Regions from separate parts of the Homo sapiens genome. Here all the other regions are linked to region 1. Evidence: fine-mapped expression QTL. A gene starts in region 1. Each other region holds a variant in brackets. All regions are shown on one strand. Distances are from middle to middle.

Region 1 (8,186 bases):
GATCAGTTGAGCCCAGGAGTTTGAGGCTACAGTGAGCCATGATTACACCACTGTACTCCAGCCTGGGTAAAAGAGCAGAGACCCCCATCTCTCTGTCTCTTTTTTTTTTTAAACAAATGTTGGTGCAGATGTGGAGAAATTGAAACCCTTATACATTGCTTCTGGGGACTGTAAAATGGTGCAGTCACTTTGGAAAATGGTCTTACACTTCCTCAAAAGGTTAAACACAGAGTAATCATATGGCCCAGAAACTCCACTATTCCACTCTTCAGTGTATACTCCAAGAGAAATGAAACACATGTTCACACAAAAACTTTGTACATGATTGCTCATGGCAGCATTACTCACAACAGCTAAAAAGTAGAAACAACTCAAATGTCTACAACTGATGAATGAACAAACTATGGTATATCTGTACAAAAAAATATTATTCAGCAAAAAACGAATGAAGTACCGATACAGGCTATAACATGAACGAACCTTGAAGAAGTTTCTCCTCTTATGCTAAGTAGAGGAAACGAGTACAAAACATATGATATGTGGTCTTTTGTACTCGTTTCCTTTACTTAGTATAAGAGGAGAAACCGTATCATATGATCCAATTCATGGGAAATGTCCAGAAGGCAAAACCATAGAGACAGAAAGCAGATTAGCGATTGCCTAGGGCTGGGTGTGATGGGGAGAATTGGGGGCAGAGGTGGGTGTTGATAGCTAAAGGATATGCTGTTTCTTTTGGGGATGATGAACATGTTCTAAAATTAATTGTGGTGATAGTTGGACAACTCTGTGAGTATACTAAAATTCATCGAATTTTACACTTCAAATGGATAAATTGTATGGTATGTGAATGTTAATTCTATTTCAATAAAGCTACTATAAAAAAACCCTCAATACTAAGATTGCTGCCCTTAATCATTTTCTACTAATAAATTCTGTGTCCATATCCCTTGCTTCATATCTGCCCCACTGGAGAAATCAGGGCAAGTGTTCCAAAAGGCTGGTTTCCCCCAAGGCTCAGGGCTCAAACTTGGGTGACTAACTGGCCTGGTTTGTCCAGAACTGTCCCAGCGCTAGCCCTGAAAGTCCTGCATCCAAGGAAACCCCTCATCCCTGGGAAAACTGGGATGGCCAGTCCCCCTCGTGCAAACCCTTGCCCACAACAGGGGAAAGCTCTGCCCTTTAGCGTTGCCAATGACTAGAACTGAGAATCCACATAAGCAATCCTTCCCCTTTTGGGGTATAAGTCATCCTTGAGCTCCCCCTAATGGCCAAAAGGTATTTTTATTATTGTTCCCATTTTACGGATGATGAAATTGAGGTTCCAAGAGGGGAAGTAATTTGCTAACAGTACACAGGAGTTGGAAACTGAACCTAGGTCTTTTCCCAAAGCCCAAGGTAGCCCTTCCACTCACTCATTATATTGTTTCTCACCATCACCAGACTGATTGTACAGGAACACTCTTAGATTGTTCTTGCTGCCTGAGGAAGGTAGTCAGACATGCAAAGAGAAGAAACACAAATTTACAGCTGTGGGACAACAAGGAGACATGTACAGCTTGGCGGTTAACAGTGCAGAATCTGGAGCCAGACTGGCCATATTTGAATCTGGGCTTTGCCACTACTTAGCTGTGTGACCTCAGACTACTTAATCTGCCTATGTCTGTTTCTCCATATGTAAAATGGAAACAATACAGTGTGTGTGCTTATATATGTATATGTACTTATGTGTGTGTGTACATATGTGTGTGTATGTATATACATACGTATATATATAATATCATAGGATAGGAATGGGAAGTAAATTAATCAGTAAATGTAAGGGCTTAGAACAGAGCCGGGCACATAACAAGTTTATTAAATAAATGAAAGTCAGCACTGATTCCTATATTCAGAATTGGAAAGAAATTAGGTTTGGCCTAATGAAAACCAGGCAATGGGACCAAATCACAGAAATGAACTCCGACATTCTGTTTTGTTCCCACCCATGAAAATGTTTATGGTTTAGAAATTGCTGGACATTCTGCAGACCACAGACAAACCTTTACATGCAACATGGCATTGGCAATCTGGGCAGCCCTACCAAAATGGGATGACATGGTGCCATTCATATCATACCAGCCCGCGAGAGTAAGGAGAGCTGGGAATCCTCCCACTGAAGCAGCTCCTGTCGCTCAGCTCTGCTCTCTGAACTAGATGGGTGTGATGAACACCATTTTACAGAGGTGGAAACTGAGGCCCAGAGAAGTTCAAGAATTTGTACACGGAAAAGTTAATAATGTGTAGAATTAGGATTCCAACTCAGGTTGAATTCTAAAACCCCTATGCTTTGCTGCCACCATGCATTAGTTACTATTGCTGTATAACAAATTACTTCAAAGCTTCATAGCTTAAAACAACAAACATTGATAATCTTAATAGTGTTTGAAGGCCAGAAATCCAGGCGTGGCTTCGCTGGGTGGTGCTGGCTCAGAATCTCTCATGAGGTTGCAGTTAAGCTGTTGGCCAAGACTCCTGCCTTCTTAAGGCTCTACTGGGCCTAGACAATCTGCTTCTCAGGTCAGTAATGAAGTTGTTGGCCAGATGCTTCAGTTCCTTGTCACCTAGGCCTCTCTGTAGGACTGTTTACAACATGGCAGTTTGCTTTCCCCAGAGCAAAGGATTCAAGTGAAAGAGAGCAGGGCACATGAGAGAGCACCCAAGCCAGGAGACAGGAACTTCAGTCTTTTTGTTAGTTTTTTGGTGCAGTCTTGTATAACCTAATCTCAGAAGTGATATGCCATTCACACCCACCATTTGCTATTGGTCATGCATACCAATCCTGGTACATGGTGGGAGGTGTCTACACTAGGTTGTGAACACCAGGAGGCTGGGATCATTGAGGGCCATCTTGAAGGCTGGTGACCACACTCCTCATTACTCTAAAGTAAGACAAGAAGGCACAATCCTGCAAATACCAAGGCAATATCCTCAAATAAGTCACAAAATTTCATCTTAGTCTAATCACTTTTTTGGGTGGTTGTTTATTTAACAAATATTCAATTAACCCAAGACAATGGGCCCAGCCCTATAGATACAGGCAGGAGTTAAACCTAGAACCTACATTGAGTTATAACAGAAACCAGGAATCAGGCCATGAGGGTTCATGGAAAAGAGAGGCCAAGAAAGAGAGCTAGAATCAGGACCCTGTGACAAAATGGTTCTAAAATCTTCTAATCCAGGAATGGGTTCCTCCTTAGACAATTTGATTTTTGGTTTCCTGGGCCTTGACAACATCCCCACAGAAAATGGAGTCGGGGAAGGGGAAGGGGGAGGAGAGGAGACAAAGGAACAAATGTCCTTAGCAGCTTACCAATTTCTGGAATTTCACAAATGGGCATTCTTTCTTAAGCTCGAATATATCAGAACCCATTTTTTGAGCTGGAATTTGCTTAAAAAAAAGTGGAGGGTAGGAAAAGAAAAGAGCCACCCAAATACTAAAGGTAGATAAAGGAAATGTCTGTTTTGATGTACGGTCTCTGAGAACAGGGCAAATCAGAGTCCAGTACTGCCAGTGCAAAATCACTCTTTACAATTATATTCATTATAATTACCTTTTTGAATAAATGAACTAAATCATTTCCATTAACCTCCTCCCCCATCTCACCCCCGTATAACAAGAACCTAGCTAGGTAGTAGCTTTCATTCCATTCCTCTCTTGTCCCCTCTCCCAAACACTTCCTCACCTGCTCTTGTAATCAGATCTTCTCTATGACTATGGGAAAGTTACTAAAAACCCTAAATGATTATTTCCCAATCTGGATAATACTAATAATACCAGCTCCAACCTACTACATAGGCTGAAAAACTATATACGCAGAAGTAATTTTACATTCAAGACAGGATGTGTGCATGTGTGTGTGTCAATTCCAAGAAGCCCGATATGCACAGCCTCATTTTCATTCCAAACACTGGTACGCCGATCACTCCTGAACAACTACGTTTCCAAGGCGCCTGCCAAGCTTGCAGGTGCATTCCCCAAGTGCGCCAGCCCACCCACATGGGTCAAGGGAAAACCTGTTTCCCTGACTTGGTAAGTAGACAAGTCAAGCCAATTTCCTCCCCGAGTAAACCATCCTCCGCCCTGGTCCCCCTAGTCCTTTGGTTCTAGAGTCTCGGGGTTTAGTCATCCAGCCGCCGCGTCCGTCTTGATCCGCGCTCACTGCCGCAGCACCACAACCGAAACGCCTTCCCCCACTCTGAAGGACTACAGCCCCCGGCAGGCCCCGCGACAACAGCGACAGCCACGTGACCTCGCTTCCCTGGGTGCCACGGTCATGTGACTTCGGCAAGATGGCTGCCCTGACAGCGGAGCATTTTGCAGCACTCCAGAGCCTGCTCAAGGTAAGTCGAAGGGGTGGGGACAGCGTGAGGTGGCCCTTTGTCTCCGAGACTTTAGACGGAGCAGGAATTGGGAACAAATTGACCCTGGTTTGGAGCCACAACTCTGCTGCTTGTTCTCTGTGTGATCCCAGGCAAATCGTTGCGTCTTTCTGAGCTTTTAAAAAGTAAGAACAAAATATCGTTTTGACAGGAACGTAAGATAAAAAAAAATAAAATAATGGGCATGAAGGCGCAGTACAACCTCCTGCTATTAGTCTTTGGGATTGGTTTTCGGTATTGGTGCATTGAAGTGGTAATTGCTAGACCCACGTTGTCAGTTCCCCATTTCATCCCGTAGCCCCTCCTGCATTGCACAATTAAGAAATTATCTCCTACTGCGTCTGCCCAGCCCTCCGAATGACCTGTGCGTTCAATGTTCCCTTGAGGTCCAGATTTTCCCTACTCTCTTTGACCTGCGAAAGGGGCAGGACATACTCCTGATAATCATTTGAAAAGTTGTGAGGTTGAAAGGGACCTACTTCATAGGGCTTTGTAAAGCTCAAATGAAGTATTATTATTATTTGAGACGGAGTCTAGCTCTGTTGTCCAGGCTGGAGAGCAGTGGCGCAATCTCGGCTCACTGCAACCTCCGCCCCCCGAGTTCAAGCAATTCTATGCCTCAGCCTTCCGAGTAGCTGGGATTACAGGCGCCCGCCACCAAGCCTGGCAAATTTATGTATTTTTAGTAGAGACGGGGTTTCAACATCTTGGCCAGGCTGGTCTTGAACTCCTGACCGCGTGATCCACTCGCCTCCGCCTTCCAAAGTGTTGGGATTACAGGCGTGAGCCACCGCGCCTGGCCGGAATTATTTAACTTATGATTTGCCCTGTAGGAGAAAGGGCAGCTTTATTTTCCTTCGTAGAACTTGTCGCTAGCTATTTGCCCGTTGTCCGTCTGTCTCATAAGAATGTAAGATCCATCAGGGACCTTTCCTTTCTTCCTCTCTCTTTTTTTTTTTTTTTAAACACCAGGTGAAGAGGGTTGAGTTACTCTCCTCAATTTATGGCACATCATCATCATCGGTCCATGTAATAGTCTCTGTTTTGTTTTACTTATTTATTTTTTAATTGCCTTCTCAGTGTTCATTAGCATTCTCCACTCCTAAGGGGATCTACTCTTTTGTTCACAAGTGTTAATGCCCAATAAGTAGAACAATAATACCTGGCACACAGCACGTGCTCAGTAAATAGCTGTTAAATGAATTAATAAATGAAGTAACAGAGCTGGGACTGGCAATCTAGGGCTCTCAGCTCCCAACCCAGTGCCTTTTCACCTTCATTTTGGCTGCTCTGTACCTACCCCCGCCCCTATACCTGTTGGTCTTATGCACTCTTTTCTTTTAAAAACTTTAAAAGATTAGTGTGTAGTATACATACAGAAAAGTGCATAAACCATACATTTACAGTTAAATGATTTATTACACACCAATGTAACCACCACCAAAGTCAAAAAATGAAATGTTACCAGTACCCCAGAAGTCCCCCTTTCGCCCTTTCTTTGCTTCCTCACTTTCTTCCCCAATGGTAACCTCTATGTTTGCTTCTGATACAATTCATTTAATATTGCCCATGTTTGAACTTAACATAAATGGAATAATACAGCATATACTTTTTTTTTATGCCTGGCTTCTTTTGCTCACCATTATGTAGCAGTAGTTCATTGATTTTCATTGCTACTGTCCTGTGTACTTTCTTTTCTTTTTTTAAAAAAATACTTAGACTTTTTATTATGAGATAATTATAAATCCATATGTAGTTGTAAGAAATAATATAGAGAGATCCCATTTATCCTTTACTCAGTTTCCCTCAGTTCTGCAGGATTCTGCGGAACTATACATAATATAGTATATATACTATTATGTATAGTATGTATATAATATAGAGTATACATACTACACGATATACATAGTATGTAGTATACATACTACGCGATATACATAGTATGTAGTATACATACTACGCGATATACATAGTATGTAGTATACATACTACGCGATATACATAGTATGTAGTATACATACTACGCGATATACATAGTATGTAGTATACATACTACGCGATATACATAGTATGTAGTATACATACTACGCGATATACATAGTATGTAGTATACATACTACGCGATATACATAGTATGTAGTATACATACTACGCGATATACATAGTATGTAGTATACATACTACGCGATATACATAGTATGTAGTATACATACTACGCGATATACATAGTATGTAGTATACATACTACGCGATATACATAGTATGTAGTATACATATATAGCATACTTACTATTATGTATGGTTCTGCATAGGGGAAATTGGGTAAAGGATAAATGGATGTCAATACCTAATGTCAAAAGTATTGATATTGACAGTCAAAATACAAAACATTTCCACCACCACAAAGATTCCTCATGAATAGCCACACTCTCCTTAACCTTTGGCGTTATTCATTTCTCTAATTTTGTCATTTCAAGAATGCCGTATAAATGGAATAATACAGTAAGTAACCTTCTGAGATTGACTTTTTTCACTCAGCCTAATTTTCATCCATGTTGTGTGTATCAATAGTTCTTTCCTTTTTATTGCTGAGTGGTATTCCATGTAATGATTGTCCAACAGTGTTGTACTGTGTAGTTTTCAGCATGCACATCCTGTATTTCATTTTTTGAGCAATTGCAAATGGTTTTGGTTTTTTTTGGTTTGTTTGTTTGTTTGTTTGTTTTGAGAGAGTCTCGCTCTGTGGCCCAGGCTACAGTTCAGTGGCATGATCTCAGCTCACTGCAACTTCCACCTCCTGGGTTCAAGGGATTCTCATGCCTCAGTCTACCAAGTAGCTAGGACTACAGGTGCCCACCACCCCTCCAGGCTGATTTTTTTTTTCTTTTCTTTCTTTCTTTCTTTCTTTCTTTTTTTTTTTTTTTTTTGTATTTTTAGTAGAGACAGGGTTTCCCCACGTTGGCCAGGCTGGTCTTGAACTCCTGGCCACAAGTGATCCACCAGCCTTGGCCTCCCAAAGTGCTGGGATTATAGATGTGAGCCACCATGCCCAGCCCGTATTTTTAATTTTAGTGTCCACATGTTCATTGTTAATAAATAGAAATACAACTGATTTATGTATGTTTATCTTCTACATGCAAACTTGCTAAACTCATTGTTTCTAGGAGTTTTTGGTATATTTCTTGGAATGTTCTACATGGAAAATCATGTTATTTACAAATAGAGACAGTTTTATTTCTTCCTTTCTGATCTGCACACATTTTATTTCCTTTCCTTGCCTTATTTTAGTGGCTAGAATTTTCAGCACTGTGTTGATTCAGAGTGGAGAAAGCAGATATCTTGCCTTGTTCTCAGTTTTGGGGGCAAAGCATTCAGTCTTTCACCATTAAGTATAATGTTCACTGTAGGTTTTTTGTAGATACTGTTTATCAAGATAAGGAAGTTCTCTTCTATTCCTATTTTTCTCAGGGCTTTTATCAATAATGGATGTTTAATTTTATCAAATGCTTTCTCTGCATTGATTTATATCATGTGATTTTCTTTGTTAATGTGATGGATTACATAGATTTGCAAATACTGAACCAGCCTTGCATCTGTGGAATAAATCCCACCTGGTCATATTGTATAATTATATATAATTATATGTCTCTATTTGCTAATAAAATATTATACATATATATAACTGATCTCTATTTGCCATTATTTTCTAAGAATTTTCGCATCTATTTTTATGAGGGATATTGGTCTGTAGTTTTCTCATTTTTCTG
Region 2 (8,186 bases), 98 kb after region 1:
GCTTGACTGATGGGAGGTAGCAGGGGGTAACTTCCCTTTCTTTACGTGCAGATGCTAAACACAAGTAAATATAGACCCAGAGGTATCTGAATTTTATGCACATATGGGGAATTAACAGTGGCATGTCTCTGGCTCTCCTGTCTTTCCTGCTTCAATGCCAAATTCACCATGTCACTGCTGGGTCAAGTGTCTTGGGTGACTGAGGAGGGGAGCCACAGAGGGATTTAGAATATATTTTTCCTTAAGAACAGTGACTCAAAGTCAGGCCATGAACAAATATACACAGGCACAAGTCTGATGCATCGAAGGGCTGTTTTGCAGCCCTTTAGTCTGGCTTTTAGAATTATGAGTCCTTTCTCCCTATTTTAAAATGTTCAATTCCTATTCAGCTGTTCTTTCTATACTCTGAGCCTTAATCATGAAAAGCTACTTGAATGTTCAAAAGGAATTAGACGGTGGGACTTCAGGGGCCAACAACAGAGAATCAGTTGGAACAACATAAATGGCCAATAACAGGGGATGAGCTGGACCCTGCACAATGTTATAAACAGTGGTTAGGTGTAACTAGAATGGTGGTGTTCACAGTGTGCTTCTGGTCCATAAGAAATAGGTTTTCATGGACTTATGTGCAATGCCAACATAGTACGATGCTTCTATGCTTCTAGAAAAATGCACAACTTTCCCTGCTGGCTCAACATCTTCCTCATCCTACCACTATTCATCCTAAATACTCCTACTGTTACTACTAATGATGGTAATGATGATGATGAAGATGATGATAGCAGCCGTGGCTAACATTTACCAAGGGCTTTCTAGAAGCTGATGTCTTTATGAAATGTTCTATATGGATTACCAACCTCATTTCCTCTTTTAAAAAGCTCTATAACAGAAGTATGGTCCTCACTCCCACTTTGCACATGGTAAGACTGAGGTACAGAGAGGTTTAGGAACTTTCCCAAGGTTGATTGGAAGAAATGCAAGCCCAGTGATGAGCTGTCTGACTCCAGAGCCCATTCTGTTAATTATTTTAGACTACTGCCTTCTCCGCCTAATTGTCAGGTCTGAACAGGCAGGGACCACATCTGTCTTAGTATCACCGTATTGTTGTAAATAAAATTGTGCTTGACACACAGCAAATCTCCACAAATCTAGTATTGTGGACTGAATGAATGAGTCAAGGATGACAGAGTTTTAGAGAACTGGGAATCCCTGAACATTGCTTATTTTTTCAGATGGGACAAAGCTATTGTCTTCATTGTGTCCTTACTGGTAGGGGTATGGTTGAGTTCTAAGACAAGTGGATTCACACTGGGTTTCTGGCAGAGATTGTGAATTACAGTTGGGCAACCATGAACCCATGGAGAATAGGACTGTATCTAATCACCAAGACTCCAAGTCCTGGGAGTAAACCATATGCCCAGTGGTGGCACCAGGCTTGCCAACAGACATCTCCACACAGGAAACCTGAGATAGGACCTGGAGGATATGGTGGTCACTAGGTGGTTGAAAATGTTCCTGAATTTCTCTCCTTCCAGATACACAATAGGATTACACTTCCCTGGCCCCTTAGAAGTTCTGATCTGGCTAGGTGATGGGCTTTGGCCAGTGAAATGTGAGTGGCCTAGCTCCCTGGGTAACTAAGATGAGAGACGCCTGCCCTACTAATCCATCATGGACCTACAAAGCAAGTGGGAAACAAACCTCTATTGTTTGAAACTGCTGAGACTTGGGCCTGTAAGTTACCAAAGCACCACCTAGCATATACCAACTCAGGGGGCTAAGGTACACAGACAAAACATCCGGGCCCTGCACCTAAGGAGCCTGTATTCTGGCAAAGCAAAAAACCATGCACAAATGAAACAACAAGGGGAAGGGAACTGTAATATGTAAGCAGCTAAATGCCAGATGTGATACTAAGAACTTTATGTAATAATAATCTCATGTGTTATCTCACCTCTCAATGTCCCCATTTGTAAACTGGGAATAATGACAGTATTCCCAGTTTATAAATTCCTATTTGGTGAGAACATTGAGAAGTAAAATAACATTCCCAAGATGTCTCAGCTAGTAAGTGGCAGAGCTAAGATCTGAATCCAAATCTGTCAGACCTCCAAAGCCTCAAGCCCTTTCCACTACACTCGGTGGCTTTTCAGGACAAGGAAATTTACTCAAAGCTGCATGAGACCAGTGCTGGCTATAGCCCCAAAGGCTGCTAAGACAAGGCATAAAGGAATGAGGAGGGTAAAGGTGTCAGGGCGAATTTTTGAAAGAAGTGGGTTTCATTTCAAATCAATTATTAAAACTAAGTGGTGCTCTTAACAGGAGAGCTGGGAGGGGCATGCGACAACATCTAGCACACAGAGGCAGTAGGCACAAAGGTAGATGAGGAATAAGGTGACTGGCTGGACAGAAAAGATGCAAAGCACACATCTCAGCGTGCAAAGCTTTAAATAACAGGCTGGGGTGTTTCGATCTTCTAACCGCAGTGGGCTCCTCAGCAGGTGTGGGAAGTGATAAAAGCCGTGTTGATGTAAAATTGTTCTGGCGACTGTATGCAGGATGAGCTACAGCAGAAAGAGGGAGAGAGACTCAGGGTGGCCAGATAAGCTATTTTGGTGGCCAGACAAAAGGAAAGTAGGCCTGAATTAGGAGAGAAGCTGTGGAAAGGAAAAGGCAGGAAAGTAATAATCACCTTCATGAATTGAGCTCTCACTAGTTGCCATATTTTGGGCTAAGCAATTTGTATACATTGGCTCACAGAATGTTCCCAACACTCTCGAGGATGCAGCATTACCCCCATTTTACAGATGAGGAAACTGGGGCTCGGAGAGATTCCGTGATTTTCCCACAATGATACAGCAAATATAATACTGAGTTAATAGCTAATGTATGATAGGTGCTAAAAGCATATCCTAGGTCTTCTTTAATGTTACAACATAGACACTACTATTATTCCCATTTTACAGAAGAGAAAATGGAGGATCAGGGAAGTGAAGTAACTTCCTCTGAGTTGCACCCAGCTAGTAAGTAGCAAGGTCCAGATTTGAACTCCGTTGAGTTTGGCTCCAAAGTCCATGCTCTGAATTGCTATACTCACGAGCATGTGCATTTGGCCCCTGAGGCTTTGGCTGGTTTGGCCGGGGAGCAAGTGGCAAGATCTCATCTCAGGAAAGGAGTCTCCATCATTCACCCTAAAAGGTTCCAGGGAGACAACTCCGGTAACACATTCTGCATTTGGAGTTTGTAATGGAAGGTGTCACAATTCATGCCCTGGACCTAATCCAGGTTGCCTAGGAGTGTGAGAGAAAAAGAGAATGAATTCTTATCCTGCACATATGCCAGATATATGCATGTGGCTTTGCTTTGAAGAGCAGGGCAGCATTATAACTTACCCCACAAAGCGGCCTTGTGATGCTTTGTGTGTGACCCAAACCCATTTAGATGGCACTTCTGCCTTCTCCTCTAGTTTGTGGTAGACCAAAATGCTCAGAATTGGGTTTTTCAAAAAACCACTCATCCTGCAGTTACCTGCAGAGAAAAAAGTCAGGTCACAGGCTTCTGAAATGTTCCCACAGCATCTGTGCTTCCATCATTAAGGTGGATCCAAGATTGGGAGACAAGTGGGGGTGCAGTGGTCTTCTGCATGCCCAGATCATCTGTTGCGAGGCTAGAGATGCTTGAAAGAGGTTTTTGTTTGATAGCTCACGTTTAAAGTGCAAGTACTGTCACAGACCAATTGTTCCTACCAGCGCATTCTTGAAATTCCACTTTTA[T/C]TTCTATCAAAGTAACATGTGCACACAATTTAAAGAGTCAAATAGTTGTAAGAGGCTTGATAAAAGCGATCGCATTCTTTGACCCTCATCTTCCAGAAGTAGTCATTTTCTACTATTTTGGTTAGCTCTTTTGAAAGCTTACTGCCTTATCTCTAAATAGCATGCTTGTATGCTACTTTGTGATTCTTTAGTTTGAGGAATTATCTATTGTCTTCCCACTCTAAAAGGTGAGGATTTAGTTCTAGTTTATTACCATCTCTGCCACTGCCACACATATGCCCATTTTCAAGCCCCTTAGTTAGACAGTAATTACAGATAATCACTGTTTTTATTATCTTGATCAAGAAAATGCTACAGATGAACAACACAGGTATACTATGATTTGAACACTTTTCTTCCTGGGAAAACAAAAGTTTCCCCCTCCCCATTTGTTTAGCATTCCATATATTTCTCAATAATTCAAACACAAAGTCTTTCCCAGATTCATAAATCTCTTCTCAACGAATTCAAATACATTAAGTATTCTATCAATTTCTTCTTTGTGCGTGCGTGCGTGCGTGTGTGTGTGTGTGTGTGTGTGTATATATATATATATATATATATAGAGAGAGAGAGAGAGAGAGAGAGAGAGAGAGAGAGAGACAGGGTCTTGCTCTGTCACCCAGGCTAGAGTGCAGTGGCGCGCTCATAGCTCACCACAGCCTCAAACTCCTGGGTTCAAGCAATCCTCCAATCTCAGCCTCTGGAGTAGCTGGGATTGTAAGCGAGCACCACCACGCCCAGCTATAATAATTTTTAATTTTTCTGTAGATATGGGGTCTCAGTATGTTGTTCAGGCTGGTCTTGTATTCCTGGCATCAAGTGATCCTCTTTCCTCAGCCTCCCAAAGTGTTGGGATTACAGGCCTGAGTGAGCCACCATACTACTTGGCCTATCAAGTTCTTCCTATAGAAATCTCTCCCCACACCTTCGGATCCACCACTGTCTGGACAAAGGGCTCCCAGGCCTGATACACAGCCGCCACCCTGTGATGGCCCTTCAGTGTCATTCCAGAGGCTCCTTTTCACTCTCTAAGGTTGGATCCCCAATTTCCCATATCCTGTGTCTTTCTTTTTCTTGGTTTACTCCCTTGGTTTTGGTAGACCGTATTTATTAGCAGCTTCTTGAAAGGACTGTATGAGACTAACTTTTTAATCATTTCTGAAAATGTCTTTATAGTACAGAACTTGAGTTGAAACGATTTGTTTCAGAACTGTCTTCTCATGTCCAATGTTATTGAGAAGACTGACACCATTTTGATTCTTGAACCTTTGTAAAAACACTTACTTTCATTTATGTATTTATTTTTGTAATGCCCTCTCTAGAAACTTGTAGGATCTTCTTTTTGCCCAATGTTCTGAAATTTCATAATGATGTGTTTGGTGTGGTTTACTGTCATTCACCAATCTGAGCATTAGGTGGGCTCTTTTCTGTCTGAAAACCACTGTTCTTTGGTTCAGGGAGCATTTTCTTCAATTTCTCATTTTTTTTCTCTCTTCTCTCTAGAATTCCTACGATTTGGATATATATCTCCTAACCCGGTCTTCAGTTTTTCTTATTTTCAATTTCCTTGTGTTTTTCTACCTTCTGGGATATACCTTCAAATTTATGACCTAACTTTTTCCATTATTATGTTTTTTTAGAGACAAGGTCTCACTCTGTTGCCCAGGCTGGAATGCAGTGGTGCAATCATAACTCACGGCAGACTTTAACTCCTGGGATCAAGCAATCCTCCCACCTCAGCCAACTGAGTAGCTAGGACTACAGGCATGTGCCGCCACACCCAACTAATATATTTTTTAAATTGTTTGTGAAGATGGGGTCTCACTATGTTGCCCACACTAGTCTTGATTTCCTGACCTTAAACAATCCCAACTTTTTCAAGTTAAATTTCTATGAGTCCTTTCCTGTTTAGTCCTTTAAAAGAGGGGAGGCATCTTATTTTTATTTCAAGGATTCTGTATCTTCAGTCATCTTTTAGGTTTTTCTGTTTTAAGTTTCCTTCTCTTGATATAGCCTGTTTCCCTCCAAAATGCTTTTCTCCTCTTTCTCCTCCTCCTCCCCTCCCCCCTCCCCCTAGATGTGTGAGTGTTCTGTCTTTCATATTCAAGGTTTCTGTCAAGTGTCAAATGTCTGGTGATCCTTGGCTGACACTCATTTTTAAGTGTGGGACACTAAAAAGCTATGTGGCACATATACACCATGGAATACTATGCAGCCATAAAAAAGGATGAGTTCATGTCCTTTGTAGGGACATGGATGAAGCTGGAAGTCATCATTCTCAGCAAACTATCGCAAGAACAAAAAACCAAACACCACATGTTCTCACTCATAGGTGGGAACTGAACAATGAGAACATTTGGACACAGGAAATGGAACATCACACAGTGGGGCCTGTTGTGGGGTGGGGGAAGGGGGGAGGGAAAGCATTAGGAGATATACCTAATGTAAATGACGAGTTAATGGGTGCAGCACACCAACATGGCACATGTATACATATGTAACAAACCTGCATGTTGTGCACATGTACCCTAGAACTTAAAGTATAATAATAATAAAAAAAAAGTAAATTCGTGGTTACGTAGGCCTAGGGTGTAGATGGGGGTGCAGGGGGTGATAGCTAAAGGACAAGGGTTTTTTTTTTCTTCTTCATTTTTTGAGATGGAGTCTCGCTCTGTCACCCAAGCTGGAGTGCAGTGGCACAATCTCGGCTCACTGCAACCTCCGCCTCTCGGGTTCAAGCAATTCTCCTGCCTCAGCCTCTCATGTAGCTGGGATCACATGTGTGCCACCACGCCCAGCTAATTTTTGTATTTTTAGTAGAGACGGGGTTTCACCATGTTGGCCAGGCTGGTCTTGAACTCCTCACCTCAAGTGATTCACTCACCTCAGCCTCCCAAAGTGTTGGGATTACAGGTGTGAGCCACTGCATCCAGCCTAGGGGTTTTCTTTTTGAGGTGATAAAAATGTTCTGAAGTTTATAGTGATGATGCTTGCAAATTCTGCAAGTAGACAATGCAGTGATGGTTGCAAATTCTATAAATATGTTTAATGTGATGATGGTTGCAAATTCTATGAAAAACCCAAATTGTACAATTTCAATGAGTGAAAGCATGCTATGTGAATGTCTTAATAAAGCTTTTATTTTAAAAAATGGAAAAAAAAAAAAAGCTCTTGGTTGTGGGCTTCACCATTAGATGATTCAGTTGCGCCACTTCATTGACATCCAATCTCTTAAACTGGTGAGTTTTCCCAAAGAAGACTTTTATAAACTCCTGCTTAGAAGGAATATGAGCCTGGCTGGCTGTGTTCTGGGACCTGACTTGAGGAAAAGGGCTAGTAGTTTCAATGTTCATTATGTTGACTTATGCTAAATCCCTGTTTTCAGAAACGGACCCCCATTCTCAGCTGTGCTTCATATCTGGTATTCCAGAGACCTGTTCTACCCTCAGCAGAGAGTAAGCTCCAGTCTTCTGCCTGGGTGTGAGAGGGGCAGTCGCTAGGCTGTGTAGCATAGGGAAGGAATATGAAAGTGTCATAGCTTCCTAACGAAATTTCAACTAATCTTCCCATTTTTAGCCCATCTCTTCTGTTTCCAGAGTTATCTCAAGTTGCCAATTCCCAGGCCTTCTGGAAGTATATCTGGTTGCCTCTTGGTTCTCCTGAGTGCCAGCTTAGAATTCCATTTTCTGAGTTCACTAATCCAGTCATAGCTCACCCATTTGTTCTCCAGCTTCCACAATTTTTTTTTTTTTTTTTTTTTTTTTTTTGCTGGTTTTCCTCTCCTTTTCTTTGTCCCTGTGGATTTACCCTTTAAAAAACCATTCTTTTAGAGGAAGGAAACAGAGGTAAATGTGAGTATTCAAGTTACCACTTTAAACTACAAGTTTTGAAGGTAGGTAGTCATATCATTTACTCCCCTCAACTATTGAAGGCACCTGGACTTCCCAGGTAAGTGATACTAATGGAATTCTGCGTGCCCTGTGCTGCGGTGACCAATCTCTTCTCGATGTGGTGCACTTTTCAACATAGAAAGCATGCTGGGTCAATAGTAAGAAAATAGGGGTTAATTCTAGCTCTGATTCCTACTCATCGTTATCCTTGGTATCATTTGTAGTCTCAGGATAAAAACCACCAACCTATGTACTTTCAGGGTTCTTAGTAGGATCAAACAGGATAATGACTGTGAAAGCACTTCAAAAAGCACAAAGTACTACAGAAACACAAGGCTTTGCTATTACTTAAAAACCTCACTTTCATCTCTTGAAATTCAATCTAACGTTATCTTGGCCTGTCTTCAGGAGACAGAGGCTTGTCTCCAGTAATCATATAAATCATCCTTGTGGCATTCAAAAGAAATGTCCTGTAGTCACA
Region 3 (8,186 bases), 23 kb after region 1:
AGGTACATATGCTGGCTAAGTTTAGGGTTGGATAGTTTGAATAATTTGGATGGGTTCAGGGCCATAGGGATGGTCCCGAGTTGTCTGACCCTAGGGTGACTTAGGGCAGAGAGAATATTGGCTTGGTGTGTGAGAGTTTGGTTTTAAAAAGAAGAAGATGGTTGGGAGTGTGGGCTCCAGATTAGCTGGTTTGTACATCAAAGGCACGCTCCCAGGAGAATTGTTTGCCACCCCGCCCCCGACCCGTGTGTCTCTCTCTCTCTCTCTCTCTCTCTCTAGGAATTTGCTAGCCCTGAATGGGGTGACCTCTTTGGATCAAGGACCCAAATGTTAGCGCATGAAGAATACAGAAAATAAGAACATATACTCAATACAAGGTTATGCTGCAGTAACAAACAATCCCAAGGTTGTAGTGGCTTTTTACACAACTAAAGTTTCTTTGCCAATGCTGCACATTCACTGCAGGTTGGAGGAGGAGGGCGGGTAGTCTGCTCACTGTAATCACTAAGGGCCCAGGATGATGGAAGCTTCATCTCAACACATGCCTCCACAATCACCAAGGCAGGGAAAGGGACTATGGCAAATTGCACCTGTGATCTTAAAGCTCCTGCCCAGAAGTAACAGTCAAATCATATGGGCACACCTAACCATGAAAGGGCAGAGAAGCTGAATCCTACCATGTGCCAGGATGGAAGAGAAGTGGGATATTTGTGATTAGTTCTGATGACTACTGACACCTGTCATTGGAACCAAAAGATTCCTCTTTTGCTTAAGCAAAAGGAAGAAGAATTGTTCAAAAGAATTGTGGCCAGGTGCAGTGGCTTGCGCCTGCAATCCTAGCACTTTGGGAGGCCAAGGCGGGCAGATCACTTGAGGCCAAGCGTTTGAGACTGGCCTGGGCAAGATGGTGAAACTCTGTCGCTACATAAAATACAAATATCAGCTGGGCATGCTGGTGTATGCCTGTAGTCCCAGCTATTCAGGAGGCTGAGGTGGGAGGACTTCTTGAGCTTGACTGAGGTGGCAGTGAGCTGAGATCGCACCACTGCTCTCCAGCCTAGGTGACAGAGTGAGACTCTGTCTCAAAATAAAAATAAAAAAGAATTGTAATAATACATGCCCCAACACCCCATTTCAGCTTTTTTTCTCATGATATAATGATAAATCTCCTCACCTGTGTGGCACATGAGAGAACTTGAAACATTTTCTTAGATATCATCTTACCTCTTCACACAAACCTTCTGAGGTTATTGGAGCATCCATTCACAAGTATTTGTGCATTTTACTGAGGACAAGTCAGCTCAGAGTAGTCTGGGGCTGAGCTGGAACTTGTGTCTGGGGCTTTCAACTCAAAAGCCAGTGTTTTCTCCATTCCTGCCTCAATCTGGGGAAGAGAAAACTCATGATTCTTTGCAGATCGCCTAAATTTCCCCTTAATTTGGCAACTTTTGGCTCACTCCGTCATCAGTCCTGCCTTACCATCTCCATCTGGATCATGGTCATTTTCCTTTGCCTCCCTTTTCTGGTGATTTTTAGGTCCAAAGACAAATTGGCACGAGGACCAGACATTTGGGTTCTTCCCACACAAGCCAATTCTCTGAACACACACAGTGGGCACCATGTCCAATAGTCATTAGTCAAGCTCTGTGGTCTGGTATTTACAAATTTCCAGGAAACGAGTCCAGCGTGGTGCGAGAGGCTCTCCGTTACTTTGTTCAGTAAGCTGAGATGTTATCAGAAGTGACAATTTTTAAAAAAATTATTATTTGTTTTAATATTTTAATCTGGAAGCCATTGGCTACCTGGCATTTTGAAAGTTTTCCAGTGGTTGAACATTTACAAGAACAATTGTGAACCTGTGCCTGTTGGCTTCCAAATACTGATCGTTCCTAAACATTCTCTTACCAGCATAATGTTGACCTTTGCACAACTTCCTTCTTTCTTTGGTGCTCACATTTCTGTGATTTAATCGTCCTTTTTACAAGTACTTTAAGAAAGAAAAAATAAAAAAGATTTTCTAGTAGTATTCCCTGGTTGGTGTCAGAGGACCCTAAACTCTAAGGAGAGGGAATGGTTCTTTATTTGGGGAAGTGTCAAGAGCTCTTGAAGGTTAGTCTGAGAGGCTGAGTTTCTATTAGCCTCAGGTCCTTGGGAAAGTCTCTAATGGGCTTTTAGGTCTCATCTGTAAGTAGAGATGATAACTACTTAAGTAATGCATCTCATAAATTTACAGTAAACTGCATAGACCCACAGGCTGAAGAATGGAACTTTCTTGGCTATTGTTATCAATGTTGAACTAGCCATATGACCTAACACACATACCACACAGTAAAATACAATACTGTCCCAACAAACTGAATGATAAAGGATTTGAGAGATGCTCTGGGATATCAGAGGGCATGGGGTCATTGTTATACACATGCTGGATCCCCAGCTCAGGGGATGGCCTCTGCTTAGAATTTCAGGAACTCTGATAAAGCTCTTACTCAAGATATTTTTGCTTATTTGCTTATTAAACATCAGGGAGCAAGAGTCACTGTATTAGGATATTGATTTGGCTGCTTTAACAAAAACCCAGTTTCCATGGATTAAAGAATTTAGAAGTTTCTCTCTATGTAAAAGTCTGAGCTGGTAGGGGCTTTGAGTGGGTAGGATCGTTCTGCTCTGGTTTATAGACTCAGAATCCTTCCATCTTGTTTCACCAGCCACCAAGTATTGCCCTCATTGCTGTGAGCAAAGCCTGTGCCCCATCACCCTCCAAGTCTATATCCCAGCCATGGGAAAGAGGGAAGGGGAAGAGGATGAGGAGGAGGAGGGTATACCCCAGAAGTTGCCACGTTATTTTCACTCATATCCCACTGGCCTCAATCACATGATCTATACTTAGCTGCAAGATAGGTTGGGAAATACAGTCTCTGCTGGGTGGTCTTGTGTGTAGCTAACACATTGGGGTGGGGGAGGGCAGGAGAATGAGCTAGTGGGTTTCTGTATTTTACTGAAATAGAGCAGATAGTGAGAGACAATTCACAGGTACGGTCATAAACACCCACTCAGCTGACTACAGCTCAGTGTGGCTTAATTTATCAGTTGCTTTCCTGGAAGCAGCTTTTCTGCAGGAAGAGAAAAGAACAGAAAGGAACTATGCAGTGGTGGGGAGGAGCAGGTGGTGATGTGGGTGCTTCTTGAGGACAGAGACCATGTCTCATTCACTCGGTATCCATGATATCTTCCACTGTGACTGGCGCACAGTAGATTGCCCCATAAATGTCCCTTTGCATCCCACTTCTTCCACAAACTCACAGGATTTGACCTGTGTAGTAAACCATGCCTGAATTAGATTGAATGCAATAGAATGGCAGACTGACAGAATTCACGCTCACTTGAATTGCTC[G/A]TCCTAAATCGACCTCAGCTGGGCCCTAATTCACCAACTAGGTGATTTCATCATTCTCCAGCTTGCTTTCATTCTCCAGCATTGATTTCTGGCCTTTATTGGTTTTGAGTCTGTGAGCGTGGGAGATTTGTTCATAGCAGTCTCCCAGCCACACTATTTGGCTTGGGTAGGAAGAGGTAGGGATTGGGAACTCTGGATGAGGGTAGGAAGGAGCTGCTGCTGAGGTGGTAAGTGGAGGGGCAGACGTGGATCTTCTGAGCTCCTGCCACTGTAGAGTTCAGGGACCAGCACTTCCAAGGGGTCAGCAAAGTCTCCAACTGCTGGAGGAGGGCAGGAAAGAGGCACTAGCCCTGGGCCTGAGCAGAGGTGGCAGCATGGTCACCAGGGCTTTGCCCCGCCATGCCCTCTCTCTGGAATGCCTTCCCTTAATCCTGGCCTAATTCCTATTCATCCTTCTGGATTCAGGAGCAGCACCTAACAGGGGCCCAGGAAGTCAAATTAACTGGCCTGTCTTCCCCACCTGCGTTTTCTCCATCATTCCTCAGCACACTGCATTTTAATGGTCTGTGTCTGTGCCTTCCCCCACACACTGTTCACCTTTCTGTTCCCCACACCTGAGCGCACAGATAATGGGCAGCTTCTGTGGGTACCGAGAGTTTCCTGGCACCAGCTGAACTGGAAGTGTATCCCTGGGGCTACTTCTATAAAAGACATTATTGGTCAAGGGGCCATACCCTGTTTGGTGACCCAAGGTTCTCATGCGCAAAAGCCAAACCTCACCTGGGCGCAGCTGGAGCTTGCCCAAGATGCCCAGCAGATGGCGCAGTCGTCCTCCTTATCTTCCCACCCTGGCCTAAAATCGGAACAAAGACCAGGGAAGCTGAGGGAAGGTGGGGTAGTGGGCAGGCCTCTCCTAGAACCCCGCAAGGGGAGACGCTTCCTGCAAAAGAAAACCTCAGGCCCAGACCCTTCACCTAACAGAACTCTCCTGCTCAGGCCCTGGGCAACATAGGCAGAGAAGGCAGAAGACAGAGCAGGCAGCGCAGGCCCACCCAGGGCACCCATTCAACCCTGCTCCCCAGACCCAGCTGCAGAAGCCCCCAGGGTCTCCTCGGTGCTTCTGAAATGCCACCATTAGGGCCCATTAGATACAACTCTTCCAGATCAGGTTTTGCTCATGGCAACCATGCAAGTCCCACAGTCAGTCCACAGTGGAACTTTCTACACCTGGACAGGTGGTGGAGCCAGGATTCAAATTTAGGTCTGCTTAGAGCTAAGTCTCAGTTTCTCATCTCTAAAAGGGAGAGATGGAAAGTACTTTTTCCTGGCAATGCAGCTTGGAGGGGATTCATTGTACATGAAGGTGTCTGAGAAATAAAAGATGCCCAGTGTTGGTTTAACTTCAAATATGTACACAGGTGCCTCCACTGGGGTGAGCCCTTCCACACATCAGAGGACTCATCAGTTCTTTTCTGAGAGTAGGTTTGATGTGATGGGGTTGGGGATGGGGGGACATGGCAAGGAGTCCTTGTCACCTCTCATCTGGACGAGTCCAAAGGCCTCCAAACTGGTTCCCTGCCTCCCATCGTGCCATCCCTCTCACCCCGCCTCCCATCCTTCCTCCTCATTGCTGCAGGTGTCTTGCAAATGGAAATCTGATGTCACTCTCCTGCCTAAAATACTCAGAATAAAGCCCAAACTCAGAAAAATATTATTCAGTGTCCTTTACAACCTGATTTCTGACGACATTTTAGTCTCATGAAATAAAATTAAGAAATGGACTTAAATCAGAATCAGCAGTGCCAGGGCCAGGGGCTGGAATGGGTCCTGGGTGATGATTCGGGTCAGCTCTGGGCCTCAAGGCCAGAAGCAGTGACAGGATGAGGAAGAAGGGAATGAGAGGGCTTGGTAGCCCGCATTGTCCAATTCTCGATCTGCGTTTTCTCAAGGGCAGGGCCTGGGACAGTGCCTGTAGTTACAGATACTCAGTCAGGATTTGTTGAATGCATGTAGGAATGAATGAACAAATGAATGAAAAAAATGGCTATCCTGACTGGGACTAGGGTTGACTGAGTGGTCACTCAGTCAGTGCCACCAGCCACTGCCTTTTGCTAACCTCAGAGGCTGGAAGGGGCACTGCTGGAGGACAGTGAGGCTAAGGAGAAGAGAGCTCGTCTCAGCTGCACCATCTGGGACCCAGCTCTAGGGGTCTGGGTAACAGTGACATCAAGAGCAGAAATCCTAGAGCCTGCTATGCCCACAGCCTCTGAATGCTTGTCCCAAACCTCCCAAGAAAATCACCCGGGCTGCAGAGCCCCAGGGAACCCCCGTGGTCATCCAGGGTGCATGGGCATGACTGCTGACCATCTGTTTCCCAGGATGGATTTCTCCCTGGCACAGATGGTGAATCCAGACTCCTCTCTCCCATGTCAAACAGCCAGCTGTGGAAGACACTGCATTGCTGCAGTCTCTGCCTGGTCTCTCTCGTGACCCCATTTTCCACATCATTCGCCTCCACTCCTCTCCACATGTTGGTTTCATTTCAACCTTACCCAAAAAGAACTCCTCCCTCTGGTTGGTCTGTTGAGCCATCTCACAAAATGAAATTCATAGCGTCTGAAGCAGTGGGAAACTCTTCTCTTTGCTTGTTTAGCAGAGACATGGGTATCCCTTCATCCCCCTTCACAACCTTAGCCCATCCTCATCATGATCTCTCACCTGGAATACTGGATTAGCCTCCAAAGGGCACCCTGCACTGGCCTTGTCCTCCCCAAGTCCAGCCTTCCCAGTGCTTTCCAGAAAGTAAACTTGATCTGGTTTTACTCGCTAAACCTGGTCCCACCTTCCCGGGCTTCTCCATCTTAGTAAACAACAGCTCCAACCAGAGACGTGGGAAACATCACTGCCTCCTTCTCTGCCTGCTGCTATACCCACCTTCCTCCCATTTAATCCATTAGCAAGACTTGCTGGTTCTCTCTCCAAAATATACTCACATTGGTCCATTTCTCTCCATCTCTGCACCACCTTGGTTAATGACTCTGTCATTTCTCACCTATGGTAGCCTCTAAGCATGATGACATCTGACACCCTCTGCCTCCTGAGCTCATAACACTTTCCTCAGCACTCCATTCACACCAACCTTCCTTCAGTTCCAAGAGTCCTCCAAAGTCTTTCCAGCCGCAATGCCTGTGCACTCACTGCATCCCCCACCCACCCCTCGCCCTGCTCCAAACTGTAACACTCTTTCCCCTGCTCTTGAAAAGACTGGGTTCTTCCCATTTTTTTAATACTTATCTAAAAGATCACTATCTTAGAGAAAGTTTCTCAAGCTATGCTCTCTAAAGAGGATTCCTTCTTTTATTCTGAATCACAGCATCCTGTTCATTTCTTGCCCCCCACCACTCCACGCCATGGAAAGTCTTATTAATTCAGTGAACTGATGTGCATTCTCATTTATTTACCATGGTCGTTGTCTGTCTCCCCACTGGAGACATGAAGATGAGCAACTTGTCTATCTTGTTCGATGTTATATCCCCATAGCCTGGCACGGAGTACCTGCTCAATAAATATTTGCTAACTGAATGTAATAAATGAATGGAAGATGCATCATGGCACTGTCCTGCTTTTCTCTGTCAATGGCTTCCCATTGTCCCCAGTATGCTGTCAAAACTCCAAACTCCATAGGGCTCCATTAGAGTTTCTTCACGACCTTACCTCAGCTCACCTTTCCAATGTCTTCATTAGGTTTATGGGGAATCAATCTGGAAAGGTTCAAGTCATAATGGGTTCCATGGTGCAGACGAGAGCACTGGCCTGGCAGTGAGAAAAAGGGACATTGAACAAATGATCTTTATGATTCCAGGCAGTGCTTCCATTGTGCAGTCTGAGGTTTGTTTGAGTGTGTGGTTAGTTTGTTTGTTTGTTTGCTGTTTGTTTTTTAAACCATAGCTGGGATGAAACTCTCAATCAAGAAGCCAAGGGAGAAATTTGAGAAGAGAAGCAACAGCTCTTGCTGTCTTGGATGGCTGGGAAGGGATATGCAGAGATCAGGAATCCCTAGTGCTGACTCGGGCCAGGCAGCGTCAGGAGTCTCAAGAAAACAAACCCTGGAGATTGGCAGGTCCAAGAGCAGGGCGGGGGGCCACACCGGTCTCGTTCACCTTCTATCCCCAGTGCTTAGTCTTTGGCACATGGTAGGTCCTTGGTGAAAGGTTGGGGGGAAGCACATGCCACGGGGACCGGAAACCCCGTCCCACTCATGTCACTGCTGAGTGTCATCGAGATCACAAGAAAGCCCCCCAGGCCATGGTCCCTCTCAATGAGAAGCATCTATGGATGGCAGGGGCAGGGCTATTTGCCCCACTCGTCTGCCCTCCTCAGACCTCAACTGAGCCTTCAGCCGCCCCCAGTGTACATGTCCTACTGGCCCAGCCTCAGTTTTGCTCCCTCCACTGCTAAACATATCTGACAGATCAAACATATTTGCTGGCTCTTTGCAATGGCTCTGTGTCTAGATAGGGTTTCTTTTCTTTTCTTTTTCTTTTTTTTTTCTTTCTTTCTTTTCTTTTCTTTTCTTTTTTTTTTTTTTTTTTTTTTTTTGAGGCAGGGTCTCGCTCTGTTGCCCAGGCTGGAGTATGGTGTAATCTGGGTTCACTGCAGACTCAACCACCTGGGCTCAAGCAGTCCTCCCACCTCAGCCTGCCAAGTATCACACACCACAACAGCCCACCTGATTAAAAAAAAAAAAAAGTACAGATGCAGTCTTGCTTTGTTGCCCAGGCTGGTTGCAAACTCC

What was found.
Region 2: its variant is fine-mapped to the expression of COMMD9 in whole blood (INTERVAL, PIP above 0.99).
Region 3: its variant is fine-mapped to the expression of COMMD9 in whole blood (TOPMed, PIP above 0.99).

What each region holds. Positions count from the first base shown.
Region 1 is chr11:36,285,556-36,293,741 of GRCh38, reverse strand. COMMD9 (COMM domain containing 9) reads left to right here and starts at 4,318. Exons shown (of 6, transcript NM_014186.4): 1 at 4,318-4,380. The coding sequence starts at 4,330. RefSeq lists enhancers at 4,168-4,417, 4,254-4,956.
Region 2 is chr11:36,187,768-36,195,953 of GRCh38, reverse strand. All of the region lies in intron 4 of LDLRAD3 (low density lipoprotein receptor class A domain containing 3), which reads right to left. Among named protein-coding and RNA genes, the nearest start is that of COMMD9, 98 kb to the left of the region's middle. The variant T/C (reference allele first, on the strand shown) is at 3,774.
Region 3 is chr11:36,262,229-36,270,414 of GRCh38, reverse strand. No RefSeq gene overlaps it. Among named protein-coding and RNA genes, the nearest start is that of COMMD9, 23 kb to the left of the region's middle. The variant G/A (reference allele first, on the strand shown) is at 3,392.